Homo sapiens: one gene and its partner. The protein of the gene in region 1 purifies or fractionates together with the protein of each later gene. This does not show direct contact. Each region holds a gene or a part of one and is shown on either strand. Other genes may lie near its edges.

Region 1 (4,039 bases):
CATCCTGAACCGGACAGAGACGGAAGCCACACTGCTGCAGAAGCTCACCACCCAGTGCCTGACCAAGCAGGTGGCCCTGCAGAGCCAGTTCAATACCTACAGGCTCACCCTGCAGGACACAGAGGATGCCCTCAGCCAGGACCAGCTGGTGAGGCCGGGCCCGCCCCACAGGTCACACCTGGCGCACGGTGGTGCCTCTTCAGGCACGTGCACCCTGTGGCTCCTTGTCTCCAGGAACAAATGATACTCACGGAGGAGTTGCAGGCCATCCGCCAAGCCATCCAGGGCGAGCTGGAGCTCAGGAGGAAGACGGATGCTGCCATCCGGGAGAAGCTGCAGGAGCACATGACCTCCAACAAGACCACCAAATACTTCAACCAGCTCATCCTGAGGCTGCAGAAGGAGAAGACCAACATGGTAGGCCCCTGCCCCAGGGAGGGGCTGTGCGAAGCCCCCTGCAGCCTGGGCATATGAGGGCAAGCCGTCCTGGAGGCGGAGAGGGCGGAGTCAGTGTGAGCAGAGGGCCCTCCTGTGCTCACTCCTTTCCATGGTGTTCAGGTTGTAAGGGTGATACATTTTTACTGTAGAAAACCTAGAAATAGGCCAGGCGTGAGCCACCGCATGGCCAGCTGCCAGCCAAAGGCTGATTTCCCTGGGGGGACCTGGAGTGTGACTTCGACGTCCATGGCAGGGAACCCCCAATTGTGAGCTCATGTTCGCATCCCCTGGGATCTTGCTTTATCCTTTATCACCTGTGGTGGGGGTGGAGGGGACTTGTGTCCTTAGAAAAAACAATTCCTTACTTGAATTGTTTTTTCTTTGCCTCTTCCCGAGGGGTGACCGCCTCCCCAACACCCCGCCTCAAGCAGGCCCCTTTGGAGGACCCCCAGAGGCTACCACAGGCTCCACCATTTCCAGAGCACATCCTAGCAGTGGGGCCTGCCCAACAGTCCCCATTTTAGTCTCAGAGGAGGGTGACAGATTCCCGATGCCAAGCTCTGCCGGTTTTGCCCTCCTGAGGGGTGGGAAAGGAGCTGGCCAGGCAGAGCTGAAGGGCGTGGTGGGTGTGAAGGAGCCCATCCAGCCGTGCTGCTACCAGCCAAGTCCAGTTCCCAATCCCCAGGCCCCCGGGCCCCCGCCGAGCCCCTGTCTGGGCAGCCCGATAGGTCATACGTGTTTTGCTGCCAGTTTCCAGAAGAGGGCAGCAAAGAGTCTTGGACCAACACATTCGTCTATTACGACAATTTTCCAACCGATGCCAGTCCAGCTGCTGAAAAGAGTACCCCCGACACGATGTTTGAACTGCTCAAAGCCTCATGGGCTGATAGAAGGTGGGGTGGGGAGGCATATCTGGGAGGAGGAGCAAAGTGTGGATGGGCGGGACCACCCATCCGGAGCTGGGGTCAACCACGGGGTCCAGGCAGTTAATCCAGGGATGGTGTAGATGCCTAGGGGGAGCCAGGGTGGGCTCCACAGAGACCACAAACAGCCAGGAGTGGAGCGGGGGTGCAGGCCCGGCTGTGACGGGGAGGGACTGAAGGGGACTTGGAGCCATAGCCCCTGCAGGGCAGTTGGGGAGGGGGGAGGCAGGGAGTCCTTGGGGGGCCCAGATCTCAGGGTGAACTTGGCAGAGGAGGAGGCTGCGAGCTGACATTGCCACACAACTCCAGATGCCGGAAGCTTCCACTCCAGGTGGGCAGGGTCTGGGTTCCACCACCTGGGGACATTGGGTCTCCTGGGAAGCCGCCCGTGGTGGCCAGTGAGAGACATGGAGCCCACAGGCGTGGCGGGAGGAGAAGCTCAGATGGCCCTGAGGAGGCTGGGGTAGGCAGGAGCCACAGTCGTGAGAGAGCCAAGGCCTTGTGTGGCAGGAGCCGACGGGCAGGGGTGCTCAGGGCAGACACAGGGCCCGAGGCCACCTGTTAGAACCATGCCCTGGGGAAGAGGACCCTGTCCTGGTGGTGACAGCATCTCCCTGTTCCCAGAGCAGCTTTGGCCACACCATTGCAGCTGTGACTGCCACTGCCTCACTCCTGATTATCACAAACGTCCTCTCGATAAACCCCCCGTTGCCAGAAGGGATCCAAAGTCTGTCTAATGCCTCCAAAGAGCCCACAGAGGAGGCCAGCACTGGCGGCTCAGACCTGCCGGACAGCAGGAGGGGTCAGAACGCATGGAGGAACCAGTGTCTAACAATTGCTTCTTGCTTCATAAACTATGCTGCAAATGTGATAGAGTACAGCACAGCCATTACAGCTTACAGAGCACAGGAACATAAGACCCGACTTACCAGATTAAAAAGCAGGTTAGCACCCAGTGTGTAGGGTGTGATCCTATTTTTATTTTGGAGAATTATATAGAAAAGACTGGGAGGAAAAATGGATTCAGATGGGAATGGTAGCTAACTTGTGTCAGAATTGCAGGCAATTGAATGTGTTCTCTGTCCTGGCCTGTATTTTCACATTTCCTCACAATGTGTGTGCTACGATTTAAGAAGTGTGTTAGTCTGATCTCACACTGCTGTAGGAAATACCTAAGACTGGATAACTGATAAAGGAAAGAGGTTTAATTGACTGACAGTTCTGCATGGCTGGGGAGGCCTCAGGAAACTTACAATCATGGCAAAAGGCGAAACAGGCACCTCCTTCACAAGGCAGCAGGAGAGAGAGTGTGTGTGAAGCAGGAACCGTCAAACACACAAAACCATCAGATCTCATGAGAACTCACTATCATGAGAACAGCATGGGGGTAGCGGCCCCCATGGTCCAGTCACCTCCCACAGGGGCCCTCCCTTGACATGTGGGATTATGGGGACACAATTCAAGATGAGATGTGAGTGGGGACACAGCCAAACCACATCAATAAGAAAAGCTAATACCATGATCTCTCTTTTCTGTAAAAAGCCAACATCTGGGTTCCAACAAGTAGGTCCCTTGCTGGGTCCTGGAGACAGTGGGAAATCCAGCCTCCTGCACTCGTGACTGTGCGTTTGGAATATCTCCAGAGGAACATCCCGACCGTCAGGGAACGGTGGATCAGCAAACTCGTCCCGGGCCTTGGGTGGGGGCAATATTCACAGGTATTTCTTTTCATCAATTCAGATGACACATCTTTCCAAAATCAACGGTGACATTGCCCAGACCACCCTGGACATCACACACACCAGCAGCAGGCTGGACGCACACCAGAAGACCCTGGTGGAGCTGGACCAGGACGTGAAGAAAGTCAACGAGCTCATCACCAACAGCCAGAGCGAGATCTCCCGGCGCACGATCCTGATCGAGAGGAAGCAAGGGCTCATCAACTTCCTCAACAAGCAGCTGGAGCGGATGGTCTCCGAGCTGGGGGTGAGGTCCCAGGCAGGGAGACGTGGTCCCCGGCTGACTGTGGTGCCTGGTGGGGCAGAGCCCCCTCAGATCCCCCACGGTCAGACATGAACTCCTGGAAGGCACAGAACTGCCTCTTTCCCTACCTGCTTTACAGACAAAATGGCACGTGTGCCAAGCGCTCTAAGTCACATTTTTCTGCACAAGGCCAGAGAGTATTCCGGCTTTGTGGCCAGTTGGTCTCTCTGGCAGTGACACGGCTCTGCCTCCATAGCGAGAAGGAGCATAGGTAAAACGTAAAGGAATGGGCACGGCTGTGTCCAATCAGATGTTATTCAAGGCCACTGAAGTCTGAATTCCAAATAATTTTCACCCAGCACGAAATATTCTGCTGCTCTAAGAAAAGTGGCCTAATGCGTTTGAGGCCTGATGCCATATACGTCATCCAGGTCCCTGTACTCTCAAAGCCCCTTTGGGTTCCAGAGGCCCCACCCACCCTGCCAGCGCACCCACCATGGGGAAGCTAGAGGGGGCTCCAGAGCCCCTTAGCCATATTTCCTCCAGCGGGGTCTGTGGCTTGCGGCCCTGCTGAGAGCTAACTTGAGCCCCTCGGCCTTCGTCCAGTTTCATGACCTCAGGGTTCCAGGCCCTCTGCAGCCCACTCACAAAGACCTTTGAGCCCAAGAAGGCTAATTTTGCTTTTTTTTTTTTTT
Region 2 (3,921 bases), on another chromosome or scaffold:
GTATTGCATTTTTAAAAATTAAATAATATATCAGCTTAGAAAAAAGCACAGATAATTTTCATCTGTGTTGACCTCTTAAGTATGAGAAAATAGTTATGAGAAGAATGAAGGAAAATTGATATAAAGGTAAAAATAGTAGTTACTGATAAAACAATTTGATTTCAACAAAGTCTGTTCACTCAGTTAGCTGTTACCGAGATTCTTACTATTGGTGCCTGTGTGGAAGGATAAATAAAAATGAGGGGGTATTTCTGTATCTGTTGGTAGCTTGATTTTTTTTTCGTAGTTGGTATTCTTCATCTTTTTTTTTAAGGGAGTTCTATTTTCTGTGGCCTTCTAAATTGCCTCGTCTGGTGTTAGGTTGGTGCCAGTGCTGGCTTCCATAGTGCTCCTGACTCAATACTCTAGAAGCTTGCCTTTACCTTCCTTTTATCTTTGATTAGTTTCCACATTTAGTCCGTTGGACATTTAGTAAGTATTCCGTGGGAGTCAGATTGGCTTTGGCTGATTGTCAGTTGCTTTCGTTAGAGGTCTTTTCAGTTGTGTGTACATGCAGACATGATTATCCATATCTTCAGTGTTTTGATTCTATTGCATATTTTTTCTATGTAATTCTAACATATATTTTATGTTATAAGCCCAGGGCCAGGACTAGGGTAAGGAGAGAGGTGCCCAGAACACAGAATTTAAAGAGACACTCACTATGAAGGTCCTGTGAGCCAACCCTTTGCTGGAATGACTCTGAAAGTGAGCACCTCCTTAAATTTTGTGCCTGAGGCACCTCTCTTGCCTCACCCTAGTTCTGTTTCTATATAACCCTGACAATAGCTGGTAATAGACACCTATAGAGCCAGTACCTTAAAATGAACTCACATAATCACTTCCATTTAGAACAAGTTTTGACTTCATCTAAGAAAACAGAGGTGAGATACTATTTCAGAAAAATCAATGCCATACCTGAAATAATTAAAACAGTCCAAAGTTTATCCATCAGCAACATTAGCCAGAATTTTGGATCATATTATTTAGGTTACCCATAGCATGTCACTGTTGTACTTAGGTTCCATTATTTCTTATCATGACATGACTTGTCATTAGGAAGTTCTTTCTAGCAGAATTGCTCTCGTGGTTAAAATTTTTGGTAATCTTGACTACCACTCTGGCTGATACTATGATATGCAAAACCATTTGACTTTGGCAAATGATTGGTTAAAGAATGAATGTGCCTATTAACTGCATGAGGTTCAGAGTACTCAGTCTGTGTTGCTGCCAGTTTGCTGGGGAAACTGTTCTTCTGGTCCCACAGTTCTCACATTGCTACCTGTTCTTCTGGTCCCACAGTTCTCACATTGTCCCTGAGAAATACCTTGGAGGTGAGTGGGAGGTCATCAGGTATTGGGACTCTGCCCTCTTCCTCCCAACTTGCCACTTCCCTGCATATGCTTCCACCAGAATACCTCTTTTTTTGTTTTTGTTTTTGTTTTTGTTTTCCTGTTTATGAAGTGACATTCTGTGTAAAAGGTCTCCATGGCAGGAACTCATTGAGAAGGAGAACAATTAATGAATGTGGAGCAGTATTTCTAGAACCTAAAATATCCGAAGACAAAAAACACTCTCTTTCACTTCCTTTGTTCCACTCACTAGATGGCTTTCTCACCCTCTTAAAAACTCGTCTTCAAAATAACCTCAAATGTTGGTTCTCAGGGCTCTTTATGGAGCAGTAGTCTCTGTTTTTATTTCATCTGAAAATGTTTTCATTCTTTGTTTTTAGATGCCAGTGAGAGCAGGTGCCAGCAGGGGAAGACACAATTTGGAGTTGGCCTGAGATCTGGGGGAGAAAATCACCTCTGGCTTCTTGAAGGAACCCCCTCTCTCCAGTCATGTTGGGCTGCCTGCTGCCAGGACTCTGCCTGCCATGTCTTTTGGTGGCTAGAAGGGATGTGCATTCAGGCAGACTGCAGCAGGCCCCAGAGCTGCCGGGCTTTTAGGACACACTCCTCCAATTCCATGCTGGTGTTTTTAAAAAAATTCCAAACTGCAGATGATTTGGGCTTTCTACCTGAAGATGATGTACCACATCTTCTGGGGCTAGGTTGGAACTGGGCATCTTGGAGGCAGAGCCCACCCAGAGCTGCACTCAGACCTGCTGTATCTTCCAGTGACCAGCAGAGCTTAATCAGGAAGCTTCAGAAGAGAGGTAGTCCCAGTGACGTAGTTACACCTATAGTGACACAGCATTCTAAAGTGAATGACTCCAACGAATTAGGTGGTCTGACTACCAGTGGCTCTGCAGAGGTAAGCATGCTATGAATAAGGAGCAGAGAAATGGTTAAATCTGCTCTTACATTTGGTATATATGAGCAATGAAGCTGATGCTTGCGGGCAGTGCTCATAGGCTGAGGAGTGTATATATAAAGCTGCTTGGTGTCAGCTTCTTTGGTGCTGCCCAGATGTACAAAGGGTAATTTGACCCTAGAGATGTTCATGCTATGTAGGTCTGACCATTGTTTTGGTAAATGCAGAAAGCTGCTCATTATCTAGTCTAAGCTGGTTCTTGGCTACAGGTAAGTACAGTTGTATGGCTGTTAGTATTCACCAACCATTCTGCAGTATTTTCTGCCAAATTGCAAAACAGTTGATTGATGTGGTTACAGTCAAGTTCTCCTCCATCTCTCGCCTGTAAACACATTCTTTATGAGGTAGTTTCTATTCCAGTCAGAATTAACCATGCTTGGTACTACAGATTAAGATCTGACCTGCTGGGCTGTGGAGCAGGATGTGGCCATTAGCCAAGAGGTCTCTGGAGTGAATTCTCACCAAGCTGTATATGCCAAGGGAGATACCACCAGTAGAGTTTATTCTGCTTATTATGTTTCTTCATTGTTGATCTCCTTGGGGAAATGATTAAAAGGAATGACTCACTCTCTGCTCAGTCTTCCTTGATTGCTGTGACTTATTTTTGTATTTGTTTTGTCCTAGTTGTCTCTATCAAGTTGAAGCCAGAGTGGGCTATGACATGCCAAGCGCTCTGTGTACTAATTGTTGCACTGTATCATTTTGTTTAATTTTCATAGCAATATTTCCAAGTAGGCATTATTAGCCCTGTTTACCTGGTGAGAAAACTGAGGCCCAGAGAGGTTAAACAGTTTGCCAGTGATCATGCAGCATAGCTAGAATTGGAACCCAGATTTAATATTAAGAAAAAAACTTTTTAGTGCAGTATTAGAGAACAATCCTAGATTTAATATGCCCATAAACATTTATGGCTACCTACTGTCAATGTCAGGCACTTTTCTAAGCCTTAGAGATACAAAGGTGAATAAGAATGGTTCATTCCCTCAGGGAGTTTATAATCTAGTGGAGACTGATACATGAAGATAGGTATTTACAGTGGTGTATAATTATTGCATTAACATACTTATGTACACAATGCAGTAAGAACACAAGAAGTGATTCACTTCAGCAGGCAAGTGGTGTGTATGTGCAGGTAAGACTTCTCCGAGATGTTTAACATTTCTTGAAGGATGTGTAGGATTGTACTGGGGTGGGGTTAATGGTGGTAAAAAAACATTCTGGACAGAGCCACAGTGTATGTAAAGGCTCGGTCATAGTCATTGTGTATTTACTTGCGAGGTACTATACTAAGCTGGATACTGGGAATATTACAATAAATAAGATGAATATCATTTCTGCCTTAACAAGGCTTATACTCTGGCAAGGAATATTACATTTCTAATAATTAAATTATTATAATAATTATAAGCTTGATGTGGGTAATGAGAGGGTAAATACAGAGTGCCGTGAAAGCATCCAACAGGCACCTAATACAAACTAAGGTGTCAGGTTAGGCCACTTTAAAGAAAGAAAGTTTAAGCTGATATTTGAAGTAGGAATTCGGAAAAGAAACAGGGAAAAAGAGTA

The links. Proteins that work in one complex are often made in the same cells at the same time.
Region 2: the proteins of CCDC40 (region 1) and KIAA0319L purify together in Homo sapiens (affinity purification with mass spectrometry; 2 studies listed by BioGRID and IntAct, with this or other methods). This does not show direct contact.

Annotation. Positions count from the first base shown.
Region 1 is NC_000017.11:80,081,642-80,085,680, forward strand, and holds part of CCDC40 (coiled-coil domain-containing protein 40), read left to right. Parts: coding exon 1-148; intron 149-234; coding exon 235-417; intron 418-3,101; coding exon 3,102-3,347; intron 3,348-4,039. UniProt on the Homo sapiens protein: Required for assembly of dynein regulatory complex (DRC) and inner dynein arm (IDA) complexes, which are responsible for ciliary beat regulation, thereby playing a central role in motility in cilia and flagella.
Region 2 is NC_000001.11:35,504,986-35,508,906, reverse strand, and holds part of KIAA0319L (dyslexia-associated protein KIAA0319-like protein), read left to right. Parts: intron 1-1,771; coding exon 1,772-2,295; intron 2,296-3,921.